2 linked regions of the Homo sapiens genome follow. The protein of the gene in region 1 interacts with the protein of each later gene in a biochemical or structural test. Each region holds a gene or a part of one and is shown in the gene's direction. Other genes may lie near its edges.

What was found. Proteins that work in one complex are often made in the same cells at the same time.
Region 2: the proteins of CAMKK2 (region 1) and PARK7 form a complex in vitro, tested with the Homo sapiens proteins (one study listed by BioGRID).

What each region holds. Positions count from the first base shown.
Region 1 is NC_000012.12:121,272,166-121,279,779, reverse strand, and holds part of CAMKK2 (calcium/calmodulin-dependent protein kinase kinase 2), read left to right. Parts: intron 1-5,194; 5' UTR 5,195-5,253; coding exon 5,254-5,724; intron 5,725-7,614. UniProt on the Homo sapiens protein: Calcium/calmodulin-dependent protein kinase belonging to a proposed calcium-triggered signaling cascade involved in a number of cellular processes. Isoform 1, isoform 2 and isoform 3 phosphorylate CAMK1 and CAMK4. Isoform 3 phosphorylates CAMK1D.
Region 2 is NC_000001.11:7,971,616-7,979,229, forward strand, and holds part of PARK7 (Parkinson disease protein 7), read left to right. Parts: intron 1-6,036; coding exon 6,037-6,123; intron 6,124-7,614. UniProt on the Homo sapiens protein: Multifunctional protein with controversial molecular function which plays an important role in cell protection against oxidative stress and cell death acting as oxidative stress sensor and redox-sensitive chaperone and protease.

The sequences.
Region 1 (7,614 bases):
CTCGTGATGAGCTGCCCTGTGAGAGGGAACAGGGTAGAGGCAAGGCCTTGGGGGATGGCCTCTGCCTGGATTTCATGGGGAAGGATGCAGGGCCAGGGCTGACATTTTGTCAAATCCAAGCAACTTTGCAAAAAAGTCCTCCTCTCACGCTCCGCCCTCTGGAATCGAATGCTTCACTGTCCTTCCCTGGCAGAGGGCCTGGTCCTGTGAGGGTTACATGGCCAGGCGGTTATCTCCGTGCTGGGTGCCTGATGAGAGCTCAGTTGAATGTTAGCCGTTGCTGTTTCCAGGCTAAACTATTGTCTTTTTGCATGATTTCTTCTGCACAGAGTGTTGGTAGCTTTCATCAGATCTTTGTAGGGTCTGTGACCCCCAAACCGTTCAGGACACTGGCCTAGACTCTAGGTGTCTGTGAGGCCAGAAGCCCCTGGATGCATCTCTTCCTGTCAGGGCCTGCGTCCCTGGGGCTCCTCTCTGCTGAGCTCTGGGGTTTCACGCTTGCCCTGCCAGCGCCGACGTCCCTGCCCGGGGTCTGAGCTGTCTCTCCTCTCCATCCTCCAACAGACCGCAGAGGCCGAGACTCCGTCAGAGCTGTGAGGGAGGCCCGGGCCAGATGCCAGCTTGCCAAGGAGGCCGATTAAAAGCAGCCTTGCTGGGGGCGGATGGCTCAGTGCCCTTGGCCTGGTGTAGAGTTCGATAAGCAATTGTTTTCCTGTTGGTGAGAAAAAAACAAATCTCCATTGACTTTCCCAGGCACTGCTCAGCCTCATTTTCTTCTCAGGAACTCTTGCAGCCCTATCAGAGGCAGCTCTAGGATAGGGGAGAGACTGACTGCCTGCCCTGGGGGACGCAGGCCACACAGCCAGGGCTGAGGGACACACTTAAGAGCAGGCCAGCTCGCTTGGACATTGGTCCTCGTGGGAACATTCCAGAGCATAGGCTACCTACCAGAGCAGGCCATGGGCATCTGTATTAGTCCGTTTTCACGCTGCTGATAAAGACATACCCGAGACTGGGCAATTTACAACAGAAAGGTTTAACTGGACTTATAGTTCCACTTGGCTGGGGAAGCCCCATAATCATGGCGGAAGTCAAGGAGGAGCAAGTCCGGTCTTACATGGACGGCAGCAGGCAGCGAGAATGAGGAAGATGCAAAAGCGGAACCCCCTGATAAAACCATCAGATCTCGTGAGGCTTACCACCATGAGAACAGTATGGGGGAACCCGCCCCCGTGATTCAATTATCTCCCACTGGGTCCCTCCCACAACACACGGGAATTATGGGAGTACAATTCAAGGTGAGATTTGGGAGAGGACACAGAGTCAAACCATAGCATCCAACAGGTGTTTGTTGAAGTAATAGTTTTTGAGTACTTAACCACTTGCAGGGCATGATTCTGAGTGCTTGGTTCATCTAATCCTATGACTATCAGATGGGCACCAACTTTACAGGATGTCAATGACCTTAAGCTGTTGAACTTCAGGGTATCTTGAGTTTCCTCTTCTGGGACATAAGGACCATGAGAAGGAGAAGTAAAGTAGCAGCAGCTAGGGCCATAGAGAAATATCAAACTTGAGTTGTATTCTCTCATTGATGGGGAAACTGAGACAGGGACAGAGTTGATGATTTCTTTCTGAGATACAGTAAGGGGGAATGGGGGACAGAGAAATAGGAGATAAGACCAACTGCTCCCCTCTCCTGACCTCCTGCCCCGTCTGATCCCGTAGCATCCTAGGCCTTATCATCATAACTCCGATCATGGTTACAGGTATTTTCTTTCCTTTAAAACACTTTTTATTTATTTATTTATTTTAGATGGAGTCTTGCTCTGTTACCCAGGCTGGAGTGCAGTGGCGCAATCTCGCCTCACTGCAACCTGTGCCTCCCGGGTTCAAGTGATTCTCCTGCTTCAGCCTCCTGAGTAGCTGGGATGACAGGTGCCCAACACCACGCCTGGCTAATTTTTGTATTTTTAGTAGAGATGGGGTTTCACCATATTGGCCGGGCTTATCTGGAACTCCTAACCTCAAGTGATCTGCCTGCCTTGGCCTCCCAAGGTGTTGGGATTACAGGTGCGAACCACTGCATCTGGCCTGAATTTGACTATTCTAGATACTTCATGTAACTGAAATCTTACAACACTTGTCCTTTAGTATCTGGCTTGCTTCACTTAGCGTATGTCTTCACGGTTCGTCTGTGTTGTAGTGTGAGTCAGAGTTTCCTTCTTTTTTGTGGCTGTATAGTATTCTGTTGTATGGCTCTGCCACATTTTGTTTATTCATTCGTCTGTTGATGGACACTTGGTTATACCTTTTGGCTATTGTGAATGATGTTGCTATGAACATTAGTGTACAAGTATCCGTTTGAATCCCTACCTTCAATTCTTTTGGGTCTATACCTAGGAGAGGAATTGCTGGTTATATGGCAACTCTACGTTTAACTTTTTGGGGAGCCACCAGGCTGCCTGATTGTAGTTTGAATTTGCAGTTCTCTTACTGTGAGGTTGAACATCTTGCCGCATGATTGGACTCTTTGGCGTTCTCTTACCACACACTCTGTGTGCATGAGTCAGGCCCGTGTCAGGGCTGGGGCGTTGGGTTTTCCCTTTTGCCTTTCCTGTTGGGCTTTCCCTGCCACGTGCCTGGCGTAGTAGCTATTTCATCAGTTCTTCTGGAAGGACCGTTCCGAGAGCGCTGAGGGCCATTTTCTGCCTCTCAGCCAGATCCTCCAGGGAGCTCTGGCTTTCCGCTGTCTGTACCTTCCTCTCTTTTACCCCACTACCTCCCAATGTCATCGGAGATACCATTTTATTCATTCATAAAATCTCTGCTGAGCCCTCACTGTTTTCCTGGGACATCTAGAGAGACCCCCCCCCCACCCCGCCCTTTTTTTTTGAGATGGAGTCTCCCTCTGTTGGCAGGCTGGTGTGCAGTGGTGCAACCTCAGCTCACTGCAACCTCCGCCTCCCAGGTTCAAGCAATTCTCCTGCCTCAGCCTCTCCAGTAGCTAGGATTATAGGCATGAGCCACTACACCTGGCTTATTGTTGTATTTTTAGTAGAGACGGGGTTTCACCATGTTGGCCAGGATGGTCCAGAGAGACCCTTTGTGATGTGGGTGATTAGCATGGAGTGGCCATCATCCACAGGTGTCTGTCCACAAATGTACTCCCTGAATTCCAGTGGTACCTGTGACATTTGTCCAGCAGAATTTGTCAAACACGTTAAGCAAAGGTTAATGTTCTGTCCCAGAGACGGTAAGAATTGACAGCCTAAGGGGATGTGTTAATCTTTTTTATTTTTATTTTTTGAGATGAGTCTTGTTCAGTCACCCAGGCTGCAGTGCAGTGGTGCGATCTCGGCTCAGTCATTGCAACCTTCACCTCCCGGATTCAAGTGATTCTCCTGCCTCAGCCTCCCGAGTAGCTGGGATTACAGGTGCCCACCACCATGCCCAGGTAATTTTTGTATTTTTAGTAGAGATGGGGTTTCACCAGGTTGGCCAGGCTGGTCTTGAACTCCTGACCTCAGGTGATCCACCTGCCTTGGCCTCCCAAAGTGCTGGGAGGATTACAGGTATGAACCACTGTGTCCGACTTCTCTCTCTTTTTTTTTTTTTTTGAGATGGAGTCTCACTCTGTCATCCAGGCTGAAGTGCAGTGGCGTGATCTCGGCTCATTGCAACCTCCGCCTCCCGGGTTCAAGTGATTCTCCTGCCTCAGCCTCCTGAGTAGCTGGGACTACAGGTGTACATCACCACACTTGGCTAATTTTTGTATTTTTAGTAGAGATGGGGTTTCACCATGTTGGTCAGGCTGGCCTTGAACTCCTGACCTCATGATCCACCCGCCCTGTCCTCCCAAAGTGCTGAGATTACAGGCGTGAGCTGCCGTGCCTGGCCTTTTTTAAAAAATTGAGATATAAGTTCATGTAACATAAGTTGGCCATTTTGAAGTGTATAGTTCAGTGGCATTTAGTACGTTCACAATGCTGTGCAACCATTACCTCTATCTAGTTTCAAAACGTTTTGATCACCCCAAAAGGAAAACCTGTGCCCATTAAGCAGCCATTCCCCACACCCACTAATGTCACCACCCCCATAGTCCTAGGCAACCATTAGTCTACTTTCTGTCTCTGTGGAGTTGCATATTTTAAAAATTTCATATAAATAGAATCATATATATGTGACCTTTTGTGACTGGCTTCCTTCAGTTAGCATAATATTTTAGAGGTTCATCCATATTGTGGCATATACTTGATTCCCCCCGACCTTTTTTTTTTTTTTTTTTTTGAGACAGTCTTGGTCTATTGCTGAGTTGCTGAGGCTGGAGTGCAGTGGCATGATCTCGGCTCACTGCAACCTCCGCCTCCTGGATTCCAGCGATTCTCCTGCCTCAGCCTCCTGAGTAGCTGGGATTACAGGCACACGCCACCATGCCCGGCTAATTTTTGTATTTTTAGTAGAGATGAGGTTTCACCATGTTGGCCAGGCTGATCTGGAATTCCTGGCTTCAAGTAATCTGCCTGCCTTGGCCTCCCAAAATGCTAGGATTACAGGTGTGAGCCACCGTGTCCAGCCCTGACCTGCATTGTTAATGCCCAGCATTTAAAAATAAAAAGTCAGGCAAACTTATTAACCTCCTTAGGGCTTCTCTTGGGAAAAACAAAGGGAAGACCAGCAATAGTAGGCCCAGATTCCTGCCGAGCAACAATTGGCTTGAGCTGGAAGCAGCTGTCAATTCTGTAGGGGATATGTGTGCTCTATTTGGGGGTTTTCTTATACTTGTTCCTATAGGAATTGAGTTAGGAATTATTGTCATGGTATGTGAGAAGTGGTTCCAGCTACTTGGGAGGCTGAGATGGGAGGATCACTTGAGCCTAGGAGTTCAAGGGTACAGTGAGCTATGATCGCACCACTGTACTCCAGCCTGGGCAACAGAGAGAGGGAGAGACCTTGTCTCAAAAAAAAAAAAAAGAAAAAAAAAGAAAAAATAATAAAAGAAAAAATATAAGAAGATGCAGACTCTGCTTTTCTGTATAGACTCAGAGATCAGATCACACCATGTTTTGCAAGATTTTTTTAGGATGTCAACTGGAGGCAGGAATTAGACAGCAGCCTGGGCCAGGAGGAGAGGGGATCCTTTCCTGTCCCTGCCCGTAGGAGCTGGGCCAGCTGACCCTTTCTCTTTCTGCAGGTGGCTCCGCTGCCGGATGGGAGTGCCCCAGTGTGCTGGATGAAGCTGGCGCATGCACCATGTCATCATGTGTCTCTAGCCAGCCCAGCAGCAACCGGGCCGCCCCCCAGGATGAGCTGGGGGGCAGGGGCAGCAGCAGCAGCGAAAGCCAGAAGCCCTGTGAGGCCCTGCGGGGCCTCTCATCCTTGAGCATCCACCTGGGCATGGAGTCCTTCATTGTGGTCACCGAGTGTGAGCCGGGCTGTGCTGTGGACCTCGGCTTGGCGCGGGACCGGCCCCTGGAGGCCGATGGCCAAGAGGTCCCCCTTGACACCTCCGGGTCCCAGGCCCGGCCCCACCTCTCCGGTCGCAAGCTGTCTCTGCAAGAGCGGTCCCAGGGTGGGCTGGCAGCCGGTGGCAGCCTGGACATGAACGGACGCTGCATCTGCCCGTCCCTGCCCTACTCACCCGTCAGCTCCCCGCAGTCCTCGCCTCGGCTGCCCCGGCGGCCGACAGTGGAGTCTCACCACGTCTCCATCACGGGTATGCAGGTGCGTGAGCCGGTGGTGAGCCAGGTCCTAGGGGTCCCTGGTGCCCTTCCCTGCCCCCAGCAGGGCCTCTGTGGAAGGTTGGGCTCCCCCAGAAGGATCTGAGTGCCACGGTTGACCTAGGAGTTGACTCCAGGGAACCTTGGGGGCGGCTGGGGCCAAAAAGGGGCCCTAGGGGGGTCGTGAATCAGCATGGGGAAGGGAAGGCAGTCAGCAAAGGGTGGGTCATGGAGCCGATTACCAGTGTGGAGTGTGGGCCGCTGGGGCTTTTTCCTTCCGTGGGACCCTGGGGAACAGCACAGAGCAGCAGCCTCAGTCATCCCACCAGGGGCAAGGGAGCTGGGGTATTTATACTCATGGGTGAGGGCTGCTGGGGCAGGTGTGTGTGACCCCCTGTGGGTGTGGACAGAGCAGTTGCAGGGCCGGAGGGAGCCTCCAGCAAAGAGACTGAGGTGTGGGCGAAGGTGTGATGGAATGAGGCGGGTCACTGAGAGCCTGGCGACGACCCGCCTGGCCGAGCGTGTGTTGGCACCAGGCACTGGGTTCAGCACTTGCTGTGCATTTCTCACAGGACCCTTACCGTAAACCCTGCGGGGATACAGAGAACTCAGATCCTCACCAGGGTTCACAGGGCCCTGTGTGGTCTGACCCTTTCCCATCCCTCCTGCCATTCTGCTGCCAGCTCCCTAAGCTCCCTCTGTTCCTGCCTTCACATTCCTCGGAATCCAAGCTCTTGCCTTGGGTCTGTACTCTCGCTGTTCCTTCTGCTTGGAACCACCTCCCCCACCACCCCATGCCAACTTTGTAAGGCCTATTCCGATAATGTCCAAGTCTCAACTCCAGTATCACCTCCTCCAAAAGGCTTCCCGGGCCACCATCCCTAAAGCACCCTCCAGCCTCTCTCTGCCCCATGGCCCTATTTGCTTTCCTTCATAACGTTAATCAGCATCTGATTATCTGTGCGTTGGTTTAGTTGTTTATTGCCTGTCTCCACCCAGCCAGAACGTAAGCTCCATAGGATCATTTCATCCACCTCCACACCCTATCCCATCCCCAGAGCCTAGCACAGTACCTGGTGCATAGTAGGAGCGCAAAAATATTTGTTGAAGGAACGAATGAATTTAATTGGAAGAAGACCCAACATCAGGATGCCTTTCTAAAGGGGCTTTTTTTTGTTGTTGTTGTTGAGACAGAGGGTTGCTGTGTTGCCCAGGCTGGAGTGCAGTTGCGTGATTTTGGCTCACTGCAACCTCCACCTCCCAGGTTCAAGCTATTCTCCTCCCTCAGCTCATGAGTAGCTGGGACTACAGGTGTGCACCACCATGCCCAGTTAATTTTTTTTTTTTTTTTTTTTTTTAAGTAGAGATGGGGTAATGCCATGTTGGCCAGGCTGGTCTCGAACTCCTGACCTCAGGTGATCCACCTGCCTCAGCCTCCCAAAGTGCTGGGATTACAGGCATGAGCCACTGTGCACTGCCAAAGGGGCTGATTTTGAAGGGGCTATAGGGACTACATTTTGAAGGCCAGGAAAAACTTTCATAATTGGAGATGAAAATTGGGCCCTGGAGAGTTGAGAGGAGGGAGAATTCACAGCATGAGCCAAAAACAGAGCTAGGACCTATGAGCAATGGCTCCTTTTTAGCTTAGCTTCTTTCACAGCATCATGATTTTGAGATTTATCCATGTTGTGGCGTATATCTGTAGTTCCTTTTTATTGCTGAATAATTTCAATTGTATGGACGTACCACAGTTTGTTTATTCATTTACCTGTTGAAGGACATTTGGATTGCTTCCAATTTTTTATTATTACAACTAAAGCTGTTATTAATATTTATATGCAAGTCTTTGTAAACACATTTTCACTTCTATTGGGTAGAGTGGCCTGTGGTACGG
Region 2 (7,614 bases), on another chromosome or scaffold:
CCTTGTTGTATAGGTCTTCATTAAATATTTGTCAGGGCCGGGCGCAGTGGCTCACGCCTGTAATCCCAGCACTTTGGGAGGCTGAGGCGGGCAGATCACCTGAGGTCAGGAGTTCAAGACCAGCCTGGCCACCATGGTGAAACCCCATCTCTACTAAAAATACAGAAATTAGCCAGGCGTGGTGGCGGGCGCCTGTAATCCCAGCTACTCGGGAGGCTGAGGCAGGAGAATCGCTTGAACCCGGGAGGCGGAGGTTGCAGTGAGCCGAGATTGTGCCGTTGCACTCCAGCCTGGGGGACACGAGCGAGACTTCGTCTCAAAAAAAAAATAAAATAAAATAAAATAAATATTTGTCAGAAGAGTGAATGAATAAACGAATGAATGAGTGGATGGTTTGGTAAACATCAACATCAAAACATGTTGCTGTTGCTATTTTGTTCAATACAGTAGGCTTTTCAAAAGAAGTTATGGGCCAGAGGTCCTGGGGACTTGATACATTCGAGTATCAGTGGTTCTCAATGTTCTTTTGGTGCACTTGCAAGGTCAAAGCAGATGCTACTGAGGGGCCAGGTGTGGTGGCTCATGCCTGTAATCTCAGCATTTTGGGAGGCCAAGGCAGAAGGATCTCTTGAAAGCCAGGAGTTTGAGACTAACCTTGGCAACATAGCCAGACCCCCATCTCAACAAACAAACAAACAAAAAATTAGCCAAGCACAGTACTGCATGCATGTAGTCCCAGCTACTCAGGAGGCTGAGATGGGAGGATCGCTTGAAGGCAAGAGTTAGAGGCTGCAGTGAGCTATGATTGCACTCCAGCCTGGGCAGCAGAGTGACACCATGTCTTTCAAACAAAATGTTATTCGCCTTTTTTCTTCTCAGTCTTTCAGGAGTGACATCAGAGTAGGATGATACCATCATCTGAGAATTTATTATTGTGTTTTAAAAATTTCCCAGTTTTATTAGGTTGATGTAAAAGTAATTGTGGTTTTTGCCATTAAAAGTAATTGGCGTGGCACAGTGGCGCATGCCTGTAATCTCAGCACTTTGGGAAGCTGAGGTGGGCAGATCGTTTGAGGTCAGGAGTTCAAAACCAGCCTGGCAAACGTGGTGAAATCCCGTTTCTACTAAAAATACAAAAGTTAGCTGGGCATGGTGGTGCACGCCTGTAATCCCAGCTACTCGGGAGGCTGAGGTGGGAGGATCACTTGAGGTCAGGAGTTCGAAACCAGCCTGGCTAACATGGTGAAACCCCGTCTCTACTAAAAATACAAAAGTTAGCTGGGCAGTTAGCTGGGTATGGTGATGCATTCCTGTAATCCCAGCTATCAGGAGGCTGAGGCAGGAGAATCTATTGAACCCGGGCGGCGGAGGTTGCAGTGAGCCGCGATTACGCCACTGCACTCCAGCCTGGGTGACACAGCAAGACTGTCTCAAAAAAAAGTAATAATTTTTAATATGGCAGATGTTCATAGATATAACCCACATAAAAGCTAAAGGGATTCTAAGACCTAAATGTTTGAGAACCGTGGCATTAGGGGCTGGGAAGAACCACAGAGGTTGACCACCCTGGCAGGTCTTGTACGTGGGCTTACTACAAGAGTCACCACTAGCCTTTTGACCTGCCCTGAGGCTCAGGTAATTATCTCTGCCAAAGGGCACTGCAGTCACTGCAGCCCAAGCAGCTGCTCCCCTCTTTGGAGAGAAAGTCACAGATCCTTGAGTTTGGTTTTCTTTGGCTCTGCTGCTGTGAAGCAAGCCTCAGTCCTAGATTCTTTGACCAAAGGAAGAAAGAGTTTGGGCTGAGTTTGTTTCCTTATGATTCTGCTGAAAGTAAAAACCACATGTCAGTTTGTCCTGTGCCACAAAAGTAGCAAAATCACTTAAGGTCAGGAGTTCGAAACCAGCCTGGCCACCATGGTGAAACCCCATCTCTACTAAAAATACAGAAATTAGCCAGGCGTGGTGGCGCGTGCCTGTAATCCCAGCTGCTTGGGAGGCTGAGGCAGGAGAATCGCTTGAACCTGGGAAGTGGAGGTTGCAGTGAGCCAAGATTGCGCCATTGCACTCCAGCCTGGGCAACAAGAGTGAAACTCCGTCTCAAAAAATAAATAAAATAAAATAATAAAAATAAAAATAACAAAAATTAGCAGGGCATGGTGGCGCATGCCTGTCGTCCTAGCTACTTGGGAGGCTGAGGCAGGAGAATCGCTTGAACCCGGGAGGCGGAGATTGCAGTGAGCCGAGATCGTGCCACTGCACTCCAGCCTGAGCGACAGAGCAAGACTTCGTTTCAAAAAAAAAAAAAAAAAATCAACCACATTTGGCTTACTGTTTTGTGCTGAGGCTAGATGGAATGCCATGCTAAGAAGCATGGGCCTTATAGTACTTTAAATCAACATTAAAAAATAAACAGGCTGGCTGTGGTGGCTCATAGCTGTAATCCTAGCACTTTGGGAGACTGAGGTGGGAGGATCACTTGAACCCAGGAGTTCAAGACCAGCCTGGGCAACATAGTGAGACCCCCCCACCGACCTCTACAAAAAAATATTTTAAAAAATCAGCCTGGTGTGGTGGTGCACACTTGTAGTCCCAGCTACTCAGGAGGCTGAGGTGGGAGGATCACTTTGAGCCCAGGAATTTGAGGTTACATTGAGATGTGGTGATCACACCACTGCACTTGAGCCTAAAGGACAGAGCAAGACTTGGTCTCTTAAAAAAAAAAAGTAAAAATAGGCCAAGGGCGGTGGCTCACACCTGTAATCCCAGCACTTTGGGAGGCCGAGGCGTGCGGATCACAAGGTCAGGAGATCGAGACCATCCTGGCTAACACGGTGAAACCCTGTCTCTCCTAAAAATACAAAAAATTAGCCAGGCGTGGTGGCGGGTGCCTGTAGTCCCAGCTACTCGGGAGGCTGAGGCAGGAGAATGGTGTGAACCTGGGGGGCAGAGCTTGCAGTGAGCCGAGATTGCGCCACTGCTCTCCAGCCTGGGCGACAGAGTGAGACTCCATCTCAAAAAAAAAAAAATTATATAAAAAACAGTAAAAATAGAAAACACACTAGCAGTGTGTTTATACCATTGAATATCCTGCACCACTGTTGTGGGCACTACACCAGAAATAGGAAAAAATGTGATGATGAGCTGAGCTAATTGAGATGAGGGTTATGGGAATGGAACAGAGGAGTGATGGAAGAGATTTGGATCTTTTAAATTGGCAAACAGAAAAATAAGATTCTTTTTTTTTTTTTTTTTTGTTGAAATGGGAGCTTTGCTCTTGTTGCCCAAGCTGGAGTGCAGTGGTGCAATTTCGGCTCACTGCAACCTCCACCTCCCAGGTTCAAGCGATTCTCCTGCCTCAGGCTCCCGAGTAGCTAGAATTACAGGCACCTGCCACCATGCCCAGCTAATTTTTGTATTTTTGGTAGAGACGGGGTTTCACCATGTTAGCCAGGCTGGTCTCGAACTCCTGATCTCGTGATCCGCCCACCTTGGCCTCCCAAAGTGCTAGGATTACAGGCGTGAGCCACCGCACCCAGCCAAGATTATTCTGAAGTGTTGCAGTTAGGGATTGGAAACATTTTGAACACAAAGAATATTAGCCTAGTCCTTAATATTGAGTGAATGAGGAACGCAAATTGGAAGGGAGTCTATGTTGAGAAGAAAATTAAATGATATTTACTTTGAGTAGGGGAGGGGGAGGAAGTGTGGAGTTGGAGGAGTGGACAGTTGTCAGCTGAGATGCCCAGGTCTAGGAATGAGGCCTCTGGAAGCAAGGTCTTGGCCACCTGGAGGAGCTGGGGAGTTGGCAGAGGTGGTCATTTTGCATGTTACCACAGGGTGGTGCTGTTGGCTGCAGAAGGGGACATGGTCAGCTGCGCCCTCTGCACTGTAGTGCAGAGTACAGAGCGTTTTCATCCATCAGAATCCCAGGTCCTGGGAGAGTGAAACGTCTCTTCTCCAGTATTCCAAATAGGGTTCTGACGCCCCAGAAAGCAGTGATTATGAGCTTACCTGATAAGTATGAAAGACATCAGTAAATTCCTGAATCCAACTGTAACATAAATTTATTCACATCGTAGCAGTGATTTTATTACCACCTTGAAGGGAGCAGCCTAAAAATTCTCGTTCACCGATCACTTTCCTCACTGTGCTATCATCTATTAAAGTTTACTTTAAAATGCAAGATGATGTAGGAATTTCTTCTTAAATTCTTACCAAATAAAAATTAAAAACAATTTATAAATCCATTCAAATAAAAATTGATAATTATTCAATTCTTACGGACTTCTAAAATTTGCTACCATACATAGCTGTCTTGTGTGTAAAAATAACGTGGAGAAGAGACATTTGAGGCTTTTGATTTAAGAGCTATAAATCAGGACTTGGTCTGAAACTGACAGCTGATATTAGGCAGAAAGCTTATGTAATTAGGTAGTATTTGTGTGATCTTCCTGTTTGTAACAGCTACGGTCTGAGTAGCTTGTGGGTATATTATATAATTCCTTCCTTGGAGTCTTGTTGAAAAATGAAAGGACAGTAAGACCAAGACCTCTCAGGTTTGCTGACACTAAAAGTGTACAAACTGTGCCACAGGATCTTAGCCATCCAGGGCACCTTAAGTGTTTCCAAGATCAAGGTGCTGTTCTGAAACGTATCCTTCTAAGTGTCATGTGAGGCCTTAGAAAGAATGTTTATATGTGTGGCTTAGAGGAAAAAGGTAGAATGAATACTTTGTAAAAAGCTTTAAGATGAAATAACAATGAAAGGTATATAAAATCTTTGTTTTTAATCCTTATTTAGGACCATTACATACGCAATATGCTTGTGACCCTCCCTGAAGTTGGCCGTTTTCAGTGAATACATTTAAATAAAAATCTCAAGTTAGGACCTGCCAATTTGGAAAGACTTCATCAACTGACACTTCCATGTGGTTCTTTGCTTAAGTAGCTTTCATCACGTGATGCTAGTGCCTTTATATCTCACACTTCCAGGCACTTCACAGGCTATCTCCTTCAAGGACAGTGTGCTGTCCATTTTAATCCTACCACCTGGCATACTTGGGTGGATAGGTGGATGAACGAGTGTTAATTTCCCATTTTATTTATTTATTTTTTATTTATTTTGAGACAGAGTCTCGCTCTGTCGCCCAGGCTGGAGTGCAGTGGCACGATCTTGGCTCACTGAAAGCTCTGCCTCCCGGGTTCACCCCATTCTCCTGCCTCAGCCTCCCGAGTAGCTGGGACTACAGGCGCCCGCCACCACGCACAGCTAATTTTTTGTATTTTTAGTAGAGACAGGGTTCCAGCGTGTTAGCCAGGATGGTCTTGATCTCCTGACCTCATGATCCAGCCGCCTTGGCCTCCCAAAGTGCTGGGAATACAGGCATGAGCCACCGTGCCCGGCCTAATTTCCCATTTTCAAGTAGAAAATAAGATTACAAAAGAGCAATAAAATCCAGAAGTTCAGAGAGTACCAGTTGCCTTTAGCATGTAACTAAATCTTTCCTTTTACTAAGAGTGAGGTAAGAAGTTGAGCCCGCCCCAGTGATCCTCCCCCTCCTTTGGACTCCTGGTATATGTGGTCCCTGTTCTGGGGATGGGGAAGGTGAGAGAGGTGAGCACATTTTGTTTATCTGTGTATGCTCTGCTGGTATCAAGGTAAATCTTCTTGAGTAAATGGTTATTGAAGTATTTTGAGTTTCTGTGCTTTTGCCAGATGTGCTCAGCAAATCGTTTGTTATAAACATACTTTATCTCTCATACTAGGAAGTGTTTCATTTCAGAATCGTAGCTGTATGTTTGGTAAGAGCCTCTTGATTTTGAAGAATACTTTGCTGTTGCAGTTTTTGTTGTTGTTAGAGAAGGGGTCTGTGTTGCCCAGGCTGATGTTGAATTCCTGGGCTCAAGCAATTTTTCTACCTAGGCCTCCCCAATTGCTGGGATTACAGGCATGAGCCACTGTGCCAGGCACTATTGCGATTTTTTAAACATGGGCTTTTCTATATCTGCACTTAGATCTTTTTATTTTTATTCTTAGGTCCTACTGCTCTGTTGGCTCATGAAATAGGTTTTGGAAGTAAAGTTACAACACACCCTCTTGCTAAAGACAAAATGATGAATGGAGGTAAGTATATGCTTGTTTTTGTTTGTTTGTTTGTTTTTTGAGATGGAGTCTCGCTCCATCGCCCAGGCTGGAGTGCAGTGGCGTGATCTTGGCTTACTGCAATCCCTGCCTCCCGGGTTCAAGCGATTCTTCTCTCTCAGCCTCCTGAGTAGCTGGGATTACAGGCGCATGCCATCACACCCAGCTAATTTTTGTATTTTTAGTAGAGATGGAGTTTCACCATGTTGGTCAGGCTGGTCTCAAACTCTTTTTTTTTTTTTTTTTTTTTTTTTTTTTGAGACAGAGTCTCGCTCTGTTGCCCAGGCTGGAGTGCCATGGTGCGTTCTCTGCTCACTGCAACTTCCGCCTCCCGGGTTCAAGTGATTCTTCTGCCTCAGCCTCCTGAGTAGCTGGGATCACAGGTGTGCTCCACCACGCCTGGCTAATTTTTGTATTTTTTAGTAGAGATGGGGTTTCTCCATGTTGGTCATGCTGGTCTTGAACTTCTGACCTTGTGATCCACCCGCCTCAGCCTCTGAAAGTGCTGGGATTACAGGCATGAGCCACCGCGCCCAGTCTCGAACTCTTGACCTTGTGATCTGCCTGCCTCAGCCTCCCAGAGTGCTGGGATTACAGGTGTTAGCCACCGCGCCTGGCCCATATGCCTGTGTGTGGTTTTTTTTTTTTTTTTGAGATGGAGTCTCTCGCTCTGTTGCCCAGGCTGGAATGCAGTGGTGTGATCTCAGCTCACTGCAACCTCCGCCTCCCGGGTTCAAGGGACTCTCCTGTCTCAGCCTCCCGAGTAGCTGGGATTACAGGCATGTGCCACCACAAGTTTCTTGTAGACTGGGCACAGTGGCTTCCGCCTGTAATCCCAGTACTTTGGGAGGCTGAGGCGGGTGGATCGCTTGAGCCCCGAGTTCGAGACCAGCCTGGGCAACATGGTTAAACTCCATCTCTACTAAAAATACAAAAAACATTAGCCAGGCATGGTGATGCACACTGGTAGTTGCAGCTGCTCAGGAGGCTGAGGTGGGATGATCGCTTTAAGCCTGGGAGGTCAAAGCTATGGTGAGCTGTGATCTCGCCACTGAACTCCAGCCTGGAGGACAAAGCAAGACCCTATCAAAAAAAAAAAAAAAAAAAAGTTTCTTGTGTACCTGTAGAATTTTATCTATCACATACTCATTATCCTTTTTATTTTAACTAAAATGAGATCTACTAAATGTATTGTTCTGCAGCTTGCTTTTTTTAACTTAATGTTAATATCTTATGTTATCTTTTAACAGCACATGTAGATTTAGATTTGCTTCATCCTTGTTAAGTACAGCTGCTAGTCCAGTGTTGGAATGTGCCATGCTGTATGTAACCTTCTCCTGGGGGTGGGCATGAAGGTGGTTTTCTGCTTTTGCCCTTGTAAACCATGCCATAATGATCATCCTTGAATGCCGCTGTGAGCATATCTGAGCTCCACTTTAAAAGTGATGCACTTTTCATTATACTGCATGTTTT